Regions from separate parts of the Homo sapiens genome. Here region 2 is linked to region 1. The links come from fine-mapping of genetic effects on gene expression. A gene starts in region 1. The other region holds a variant in brackets. All regions are shown on one strand. Distances are between the middles of the regions.

Region 1 (5,393 bases):
ACTTAATGGGTAGCCACTTTCTAAACTATTCCTATACTTTCCAGTACATACTTTCTCCTTTACATTACTTACTTTGATGAACCTAATCCCAATATAACCTTCATCAGTTACCTTTCCCAGTGATATCATGGATTTGCACCGTGTCTTTGCAAGGTTCCTGGCACTGTGCTTCAAGCTGGGCTACCTTCTCTTTCAGGTTAACAATCTTTTGATTATTTGAATTATATATTTCCTGCAAATATCTACAAACAGAAACATAAGATAACAAAAATAAGAAGACAAAAATAAGTATTCCTTTCAGAAGAGTAATTTTATATTTTCTTTGGAAACTGCTAAGTATTTTCTTAAGAAGTGCTTTCTGATAAATTATTCCATTCTTGAGGAAAATGTAAAATTATATTACTAAATTAACATGAATTAAAATTATAAACTTTTTGAAAAAGAAAAACAAATCAAAAAATCAATTAAAACAGGAATACAATGTGGACCTGAATCTTTTTACTTAGAATGGGGCATATTGTCTCAACTCCCAACACAAATAACAAAGTCCTTGTCAATAAGCAAATGTCATTGACATTTTGCTTTTTACTTTATGCATAAGGGACAGCAGATAGCAACCTGCAAGAGTGGCGGGACTGGTTAATAGGAACACCCCCTGATGCTTTAGAAGCAGGAAAAGCTCAGTTCAGTAATTCACATGTGCTGAAGGAGTATACCTTTCACTTGTGGATCTACTGAGGCTATACATATAAGCTTCAATCTAAAATATAACTTACACAGGGACATGATCTGGAACGTTATTGTATGTAAAATAAAACAACAGATACTTCCCCTTTCTTCTTTAATGCTTCTGGTTACATAGCTTTGGGAATGGACTGGGGGAAGTAAAAACCCTCCTTTTGTAGTTACTTACAGGGTGGCTTGCAAATATCCAAAAATGATAGAAAACTGTCTACAATGCATAAACCGTTCTTTCTTTGAAGTAAAAAAGGGTAGACAAACTATTTGTCCACGTTTTCCCTCTACCTTGTCTTAGGCAATTTCTGTACAATAACCTCCTTCAACTTCAATGATGGACAATAATAATGCAAGTAATAATAATAACAATAATAACAAGGGCCCTCTGATAGCAAAAAGAGGAGAAATCTTTCCTGGGCCACTTCTCCCTAGCTACTATTTATCTCAATTTCTCAAGCTGCTTTGAGAAAAATTCAGAAAAAAAAATTGGGGAAAAATATTAAAACTGTATCTGAGACCTTATGTTCAGAAAGTTTATGAGTCCCTGAGAAGCTTTAACAGAGACATTCACTTCCAAATGAAGGGAAGAGACTATGCAGGTTCATTCTGCAATGATCAATATGAGCTTTGCAATATTTGCCACACTTAGTCTCTCAAGACATGTTTCTTCCTGCTCCACATTCAATATAATTTACTTTAGGAGCCAAAATCCTTACTATGCCTCTGCTTGCTAATTTTTTTAACCACCAATTTGTCAGCATTTTTATAAAGAGGATTTTATTTTCAACACCCAAATTCCTATGAGATTGATTTTATGTTGTAAGATAAATGGGGGATGGGGAAAAAATTTTTGATAAATATGGTCAAACTAGCATTTGAAGACATCTAGAACATCTTTCTTCAATGTGATTATTAATAAGCAATTATAACCCAGTATAATTTATATTGCACTAAAAACTTCTATCTCTACTATGCTCAACATAATCAGGCATAATGTCACTGGGATATTATAAATGGGGAAAACACATTAAAAATTACTTTCACTCAAGTATAGAATATTAAATAAAAACTAAATCAGTCTTGCAGAGCAAATTAAAACAAAAATCCTTACCGAATACTTGAGTCATGTGTTAAAATCGATGCTTCATATTTCATAATTTCTTCTAACATTTTCCTGGACTTCAAAGTAGCAGCGTCTATCATATCTGTAATATAGGATCAGAGACATAAAAATCCTTAAGCAAATAGAACAACTAAAACAACAGCAAAAGAACTTCACAGATTATTATTATTATTTTTTGGTCAGTAGTCTTTATTTTCTCACTTGGTTTTGATGATTCATCAGGATTATAAGTGAGTTGGATTGCTTTTATCAGCTGTTTGACTTCTGATGTTTTGTTTTCAACTTGATGTAAGATGTCTTCCAAAGACTGTAGATCCTTGTCTACTTTGGTTTGATAAGTAGACAGGAAATCTGCAATGCCACAGGTAGTTGGACAATAACTACCCTGAAAATATAACAGTGATTAAAAATGTAGACAGATGCTACTCTTAAAATCTATTAAGAAAAATAGGTAAAACCTAGACTATGTTTTTAAAAAGTTACAAGTGCCAGATGATATTTATGAGGGAATTATTTCTATTCCTCTGCCCCTCTCCAGTTCACACACAAAGGGAGAAACATAAAAACTACTTACGAATCTTTCATCTAAGATGCAGCAGTTGTCTCTGGTAGCAACATACTAAAAGAGAAAAAATACAGAAATTTCACTAGTTTATTATCTGTTTTATTTTCCAGCTTTCCATTTTAAACAACGTTTTGTGAAGAGCACACTTACTGCTACACATGTTGAAGAGAGAAATAAAAGAGCATAGAAGTAGAGAATTAAATTCCGGGGGTGCAAGGACCAACTCATGATGTCTGAGTGCCCGGAGCTCCGAGCCTTGTAGTGTCAGCACTGTCACCTCTCAGGCTCCAATTGTCCCTTTATGTAAGCTCCTGGGATAGCCAGGACTGCAAATGGCTGGAGCTGATCACGGGGCCTCCTTACCAGAAGGGTGGGCAGGTCTTTCCCGTTCCTTTTTCCTCATCCTGGCCCCCAACCTATACTGTCAGGTTCCCAGATTTTGCACACAGGTTGAAGCTCCTCCTTTTTGGCCCAGCTCAAGGTTTTTTCTCTGATCCAAAATTATCTGCAAAGGCTAGTGAAGCATTATCCATTGCTGTGAGGAGGAGGGCAGTCCTGGAGGCTGTGTGATGCAACTTCTTCCAGTACATGGCTGAGAGCAAACAGATATGACCTCGAACTAAGCAAACCTAGTCTATCCTTAAGATGGGTCCTGCTGCCATCACCTGAATTACCAAAAGAACTTTCTTAGCTTAGGGATCAGTTAACACTATTATTTTAGCCTAGGGATCAGTTAACATTATTATTTTTAATCTGTGGCTGTGGCAGGAGGAGACTGACTTCCCCCATGTCCCAGTTCACTATTCCCAGGAATGAATGACCCTGGAAATACATTCCTGTCCCTCTGTGTCAACCATGTTCATAGGCTCTCACTTCTCAGGGAGCTTTTGAGCTCAATCTTCCCTTTGTCTGAAGGTGGGCATGGCACCCCATCTGCCACAGAGAAAAGAGCCAGGAGCCCACTTCATTGTTCCTGTGGTTCCATCAAGCTATCTCAGAGAAGAGAAAAATCCACCTCCCTTGTATCTAAGGAGAGTAGAGGCATAGCTGAAGGAAGGGGCAAAATGAGGTGCTGGGGAGGGGCCATCATTTCTGTTTGGCCCTTACAGCATCCTTGTGTTTGGGAAAACATGTCTGTCATCACTGCCTATTGAGATTTATCACTGGGCGTTACACTATTATTAATGTCTCTATTTTTGGTTATCCCTCATTTCTTCCTCTGGAACCAAGCTTATTATAAGTTTTGATGAAATATGTTAGTGGGAGAAATGCCTCCAGTTTGAAAGAAATACTAATACTTTAATTCTGTCTTTACAAAGGTATATTTATTGACTCAAAAACAAAGATAAATATTCATATTCAGTAAATAATCAATAATTATAACAAAGTGAACACATCAAAACCAGATTTGTTGCTTTTCTTCTCCTCCTTAATATATCCCTCTCTGACTTAGCAGTTATTGTCAATCATATCACCATACCACCAGCCAATTAAGTCTCACAATCTTTCTCATCCATCTTTTCCACTCAGCTAATCAGTTGTCAATCAAGTCAGTTGAATTAAACATTTAAGTATTAGTATTCTTTCAAACAGCTCTACCTCAGATAGCATTTGTAGCAACCTTATATTATATGTATACATGCTGTATCCACTGCATTAGATTGTAAACTGATTTCTGTGGCTACGGCATCTAACATATATAGCTGTACTTAACATAGTTGTAGTTAACACTCAATAACTATGTAATGACTTGAATCAGTTGCCTCTGTGAAGAAGAATGGGATGCAGAGGTGGAGGACAGGATTGGAAAAAAAGGCTTTATTTTTCTCTGTAAACTTTCTATATTTAGAATGTTGAATGTATATAAATATTATCTACTAAAATATATATAATGAAAATATGTAATTATTGATCATTCACAAAGATTTACATAGTACACTGATAATTACATCTTGCTAACTTTTTAATATGATTTGAACATGAAAGGTGACTCAGGCATTGCCTTTGCCTTCAAGAAGTGTGTAGCTCAATTGGAGAATGTATAAATAAATAGTTGTTAAGGCTCTGGAGTCCATCTCCCTAGGTTTGAGTCCCATCTTTACAATTTACTGGCTGTGTGATTCAGTACAAGTTACTCAATCTCCTTGAGTTCCATTATCCATGTCAGTAAAAGAGAGATAATACTTATGATATGGTATTTACTTAATAGGGCTATTACTAAGATTTAGTGGGATAATGTGTTGAGCACATTACCCAATTCATGGTAAGTGTTAAGTAAATGTTTGTAAGGTTTATGAATTACCAAATATATTTGGTATAAAATCTATGTAAATAGGAAACTCTTTTAATAGAGCTATTATTGGTAGATTTGGTTCACAGGGAACAAGCTTTGTTGTTCTAGCTACAGAAATTCTCTTTAATAAAAAATCTGTTGCAACTAACTGCAGTCTCCTTCTGTAAGATTCCCCAGAGAAGAAAGCACCTGGTCGTTTAGTTTAGGAAATTCTATCCAAATTGATTTTACCAATCAAAGATCAAATGATAATATAAATGGATTGCATGCCTTGTGAGAAGGTATACTTCCTATCTGTAAGAATGTTCAAGCAAAGTGTGTTTAGACAGAGCATGTCTTTGTGGTTCTTTTTGCTGAAGACCATAAAATATTAGTTTGTTGAATTTAGGGTAACAATTCATGCAGCCACAGGTTGGGTTCTGAGCTCCTTAATGTCATAAAGTTTCATTGGTTGTGTTAAGATATATAATATTCACAAAGTTGATAAACATTTAAATTGAGGACATTAGAAATTCTATCTTATCCCATTTTAGAAGTGGAATACTTGTATTACAGGCTTTTAACTGACTTATATTGGAATCCAGATGTGTTATCACAATTTTAGAGAAAATAATTTCCTTTTACTACAATCTCAAGTCCTAAATCCAAATCATATAAGACAAGATGCTTGCTCT
Region 2 (5,393 bases), 85 kb before region 1:
GGCCACTGTGACCTTGCGAGAGATGCTGCTTGATCCCCCCTCAATCACTTTCTGCTTACCACAATGGGCTGGGACCATCAGGTCGTCTGCCACAAGTGCCCACAGAACCTCTCCCAGCCCCTGGACCTGAAAGCGTTGCTGAGTAGATTGGACTTAAGACAAACAGCAAGTCCCCCATGAGAGTCCACTTCTTTGCCCCTGTTCCCTCAGCTTGTGAGATAACACAGGAGCCTTCTGTAGTATGTTGAAACATTAGATCTGTGCCATTAATTGGCATCGTCTCGCAGCCTGAAGGAGGCTGGATGCTGGGATCCTGTAGTCACAGGAAAGAAAAGCTTTCTTAAAAATGGGCATGCAGGTTCGTCTTGAGTGTGTGTGTGTAGGTTTTGGTAGGGAGGTGGGACGGTGGGGGAGGGATTTAAAAAAAATCTATCCCACATCTCCCCTGAACACCATCTCTCCCTCACTCCCCAAAAAAGTTGACAAAAGGGTTTTATTCTTCCCATGTAGCTGTCTGAGGAATTGACCATATCTGGGTGGGGTATGGAATGTGGGCATCCCTAGGTTCCTGGAAGCAGCTCTTATGCTACTCATAGAGATGGGACTGATTTTATTTTTTATAGCGCTTAATTCACCGTTATGGGAAATGCTTCCAATCACAAAAATTCAGCCCAGCTCGTTTTGAGGAAGAGGCAGGACATGTTATAGTTTTATACAACTCATTTCCATTAAACTGAATCAGAAGTCCTTTTTCTGGATGAATTAAAAATGTGGCCTGTGCCTGTGTAATGTCCACTCCTTTCTGCCAACTCCCTTCCCTCTGCTCCCTGCTGGTGTTGTGTATATGAAAGAGGAGTGTTTTTCTGTCATAGATGCCCTAGAGGAAATTTTGTGGATGTTGGAGAGCTTAAAGGCATTTCAATTGTTAGAAAACTGACACAGACTGTTACAGAGGAATCTTTGCCACTTTTCCCACCCAAAACCAGCCTGGGGCCTGACCTCTTCTGCTCTCAGCCCCTTTCTCTGCATATAGAAAGTCTAAATGCAGTATGTGTAGACTTTTAAAGTTTTAAAATTCAGCCTCAGGAAGAAAATCAGAAATACTGGCTGGTGAAATAAACAGTTTAGGCATCTTGTAAGCCTGCCTTTTTTGAAAAACAACAAAACAAAGTAAGTGTTGGTGAGGATGTGGAAAAATTGGAACCCTTGTGCACTGTTGATGGGAATCAAAAATGGTGCAGTCATTATGGAAAACAATATGACAATTCCTCAAAAAATGAAAAATACAATTACCATGTGATCCGGCAATTCAATTTCTGGATACACATCCAAAAAAATGAAAGTAAGATCTCAAAGAGATATTTGTATACCCATGTTTAGAGCAGCATTATTCACAACGGTCAAAAGGTGGCAGCTCCCCGAGTGTCCATTGACACATGAGTGGATGAATAAAAAGGTGGTATATACATAAAATGGAATATTATTCAGCCTTAAAAGGAAAGGAAATTCTGACATGGGCTACAACATGGATGAACCTTGAGGACACCATGCTGAGTGAAATAGGCTAGCTGTAAAAAGATAAATGCAATTCCACTCATATGAGGAACCTAGAGTAATCAAATTCATAAAGACAGAAAGTAAACAGGTGGTTTCCTGGAGCTGCGAGGAAAGGGGAACGGGGGTTTATTGTTTAATTGGTGCAGAGTTTCAGTTTTGCAGATGAAAAGCATTCTCAGGATTGATTGCACAACAATGCAAATGTACACAGCACTACTGATGTGTATAATTAAAAATGGTTATGATAAATTCTATGTGTATTTCACCACAATTTAAAAAAAAATACATGAAAATTCTTTGGAAAGTATAAGATATTACAGACAAGAGGCCTCAATTATTGAAAAAAAAGATGAAACACTGTCCTGAATTTCCCAAGGGGAACAAAATCTTGAGCATGTCACCTTTGAAAGCATCATCCTGATCCATGTGTACTAAACCAAGTCTAGTGTGATATAAAGTTCCATAGGCTGCATGTGGCATTATGTGCTACCCTTCAAAATTGATTTCAATCCAAGAAAGAGAACAAATCTCGATTCCCAAGTCTTTCCACAACTTGCTTGCTTTTCAAACATAAATCATACATATTAAATCTAACCATTGTCTATAAAAAGCCAACCACACATTTAAAATGTGTTACTGGTAATAGAGCAGCTTGAGGAGGAAGAGGATGAGGGAACTGAAGGCAAGGGGAGGGAGGTCTGTGGAGAGGGTGGGGTGGAACCTGCCAGGCTCTGGGAAGATCAAGGACATTGACAAAAAAGAACAGATTTATCATCACAGAAAAGATGAGGGTAAAAAAACAACAAACAAACAAAACAGGTTACAGGACAGGACATAAGGGCAGACCAACCGTTTAAGGAAAATAAGTCTCATTAGAGGGTTAGAAGCATTAAAAAACTTTTTTCACTTTGTCCTCTGAGGAGAATATTTCTGAAATTTCTGCTTATGGTTATATAAAATCGGGCTGAGGATTTTTTAAAACGTAAAGTTGGTAGCAGACTTTGGATATTTTCATCTATATTTGTTTTTCTGCCTTTAATAAAATAGTGTGTATGTTTCATTTCAGAAGCTATCAAAGACCACATTTTGATTGGTCCACACAATCAAACCAGAAGAATGTTCCAGTTTATTGAATTTGTCTCCTTATTTAAGAAAAAGAAAATTAAGCCAGGAGAAGTTAGCGCTCCATCCACCAGCTGGGTCTTTGATGAAGGGAAGTGAAATGAGGATTCTGCACAGGTGGGCGGTAGCTGGTGGAGTGAGCGCCCTGCAGGTGCAAGTCATGACAACAAATGGGGAGGGATGCTGTGAAGACATTGCCCCATTGTGTTAGGAGAATTCCCAGACACCCCATTCCACTCCTCCAGCTCTCTCCAGGATGGAAG[A/G]ATGGGGAACTATGAGGCGTATGCACCATCCAGGAAGAATCCTAAGTCACATTTACCCTGAAAAGCATGCTTCTGTCCATGAATGTCTTCCACCCTGTGGCTGGGGCTTGGGGGCGGGTAGGGAACAGTGTGGCTGGTGATATTTATGCTTTTCTTCATTTACCAAATATCTTGTAAATGGAACTCTTTCTTTTTTATAAGTCAGTGTTAATGAGTGTAGACCTCAGAGATTTAAAATGAACTATCTGCAAATCTGTGACATTACACTAGAATAAATGTTTTATTACCCCCTCAAATCCAAGTCTCTCTTAAAAGATGTTGAACAGAAAGTACTTAAAGGAATATCTTACATTTTTCATCCATAGTTCAAGTTAAATGATAGGGTAATACTAACACATTAGCTGTCCTTTATACATATTAATCAATAATGCAGTTTTATTATCAATAATTGATTTAAGTCTCAGTAGTGGACAATTTTAAAACAGTCTAAATGTGAAAGTTCAGCATTCTAATCGTTCACAGACAAGCAAGTTAGTGTGAATATATGACACTATGTAAATGACAATATATACATCCAAGTTTAAGTTTACAGTCCAATATAAGGTTACAATTATGTCAAGTCTTAGAAGAATTTTTTTCATAGATACGGACTTCTAACCTATGTATATCACTCTTCTGTTACTATACTTGATAAAATACATTTTGCTAGCTAGAATAGACTTATACTTAGAAAGTTCCATTTACAGTTACACAATTTAATAAAGTTTGATTAAATGAACTGGCAAAATCTGTAATGTTACAAAGTAATAAAATGTAAAACTAAAACTATGGCACATCTGAAAATCAAGAATGACTTGTTTGGCCCACATTACAATTCCTGTATACTAGAATAATAATATATGTTATGTCATAATTTTTCATAAATGATTTTTCAAAATTCAGCAATAATTTTAAATAAATGTGTGCATATATATACGTTTTGCATATAGTTACACAGGTTTCCCAACTGAAATAACTAAGAGAAATAAAAACAGAGAAAAACCTGCCTCTGTGCTGGAAGGAGGGAAGGGTGACCTGTCAATAAGTGTTTGTTGAATGAGTGAATGAATCATGCAAAATTCTAATATCTTATTAAAATAGGAGATAACCTGCCATAGCTAGGACCCAGAAATAAAGAAAACAGAGTTACTTTCATTGTATCTGGGGATCATCCCTTAGCTATTTCTCTCAGTATTTTGAACCTATGTTAATAATGGATATCAAATTTTTCAAACACCAGCAGAGGACAAGGAAGAGCTAACATTCTGACCCCAGTGAAAGTGGACTCTGGTACTTTCATTTAGTCACAGGCTCGCTCAGGGAGTCTTGTTTCTTATTCCTCACTAATAGTCCCAGTCATACAAGCACTTGAGATTATTTTGGCTCCATCCTACTTCCCTGTAGCTACTATGGCCTCCCACTCTCTCATGGACATTCATCGTATTTTGCTCTTGCAACATTCCCTCTCTTGGCCACACTCCAATGCAAATGATTTACTGTAATATGTCTCCACCTTCACACCTTGTGAGAATGAAATGAAAAATCCTACAATTAATTCCTAAGGAAAACAGTACCTTCTAATGCCACCAAAGGTATTGGAAGCAATTATTATTAATTAATAATATAATTATTATTAATTGCAATTGTCGTTGCAAACAGCTTCCAAGAGGGTGGTAGACAGCCAAGACTTTTTATTCAAATAGCTGTTTTCATTCATAAAGCAATCTACTAAATGATAATGTCATGCTTTTTGGCAACATCCGTATTTATGGGTTCTCCTTTTAAGAATTTTCTCTTACATTTGGCATGCTCAGTACAGGACAATACTTCTTAGGAAGTTTGATGGATATTTTTCTTTTGTACTTTTTTAATCAACAGAAACTACACTGATTTTGATTTGCTTAAACAAAAATTTTTTTTCATATTAACAGTCATTTTACCATAGTGTTAGAAGACACCATGGTGGAGGTACTTGCAGTGAGATAACATCCTGCATATTAATCCTTGTGTTTTTCTCTCCTCCACTTCCTGACTCTTCCCTTCATCAGCTGGAGGCAATCACGTTGCCTGGGAGAGAATTAAGATTGTTAAAGCAGGAATTTAAGGAGAAAGGAACTATTTTAATATTATTTTTGAAGTAGAAACTAGGGTTTTAAGATTCAAAAAGAGAAGCTCCAAGGAGACCAGAGCAGAGAGTTTATAACCTCTTCAAAAAGAAAGAGTCAGCCAAGAGTCAGCTCCACCCCTTGGAAACATCAAGAAGCCCAGCCAACACCTACAGACCATCCCTTGCCATTCCTGTGAGCTCATCATCATGCCCCTGGCAGAAAAGCTACAAGTTTCTTCTTGTGACTTTCCTATGAATGCCTTCCTCGCGTTGTTGCCTATACATGGACCGTTGCTCATTCAACA

The links. PIP is the estimated chance that this variant, and not a neighbour inherited with it, causes the effect.
Region 2: its variant is the best candidate, but not a certain one, in a credible set for the expression of FGG in lung (GTEx, PIP 0.89).

Annotation. Positions count from the first base shown.
Region 1 is chr4:154,609,956-154,615,348 of GRCh38, forward strand. FGG (fibrinogen gamma chain) reads right to left here and starts at 2,701. Exons shown (of 9, transcript NM_021870.3): 1 at 2,577-2,701; 2 at 2,436-2,480; 3 at 2,063-2,246; 4 at 1,850-1,943; 5 at 112-242. The coding sequence starts at 2,654. RefSeq lists an enhancer at 2,743-3,915.
Region 2 is chr4:154,524,664-154,530,056 of GRCh38, forward strand. It overlaps the pseudogene WDR77P1. Among named protein-coding and RNA genes, the nearest start is that of PLRG1, 23 kb to the right of the region's middle. The variant A/G (reference allele first, on the strand shown) is at 2,943.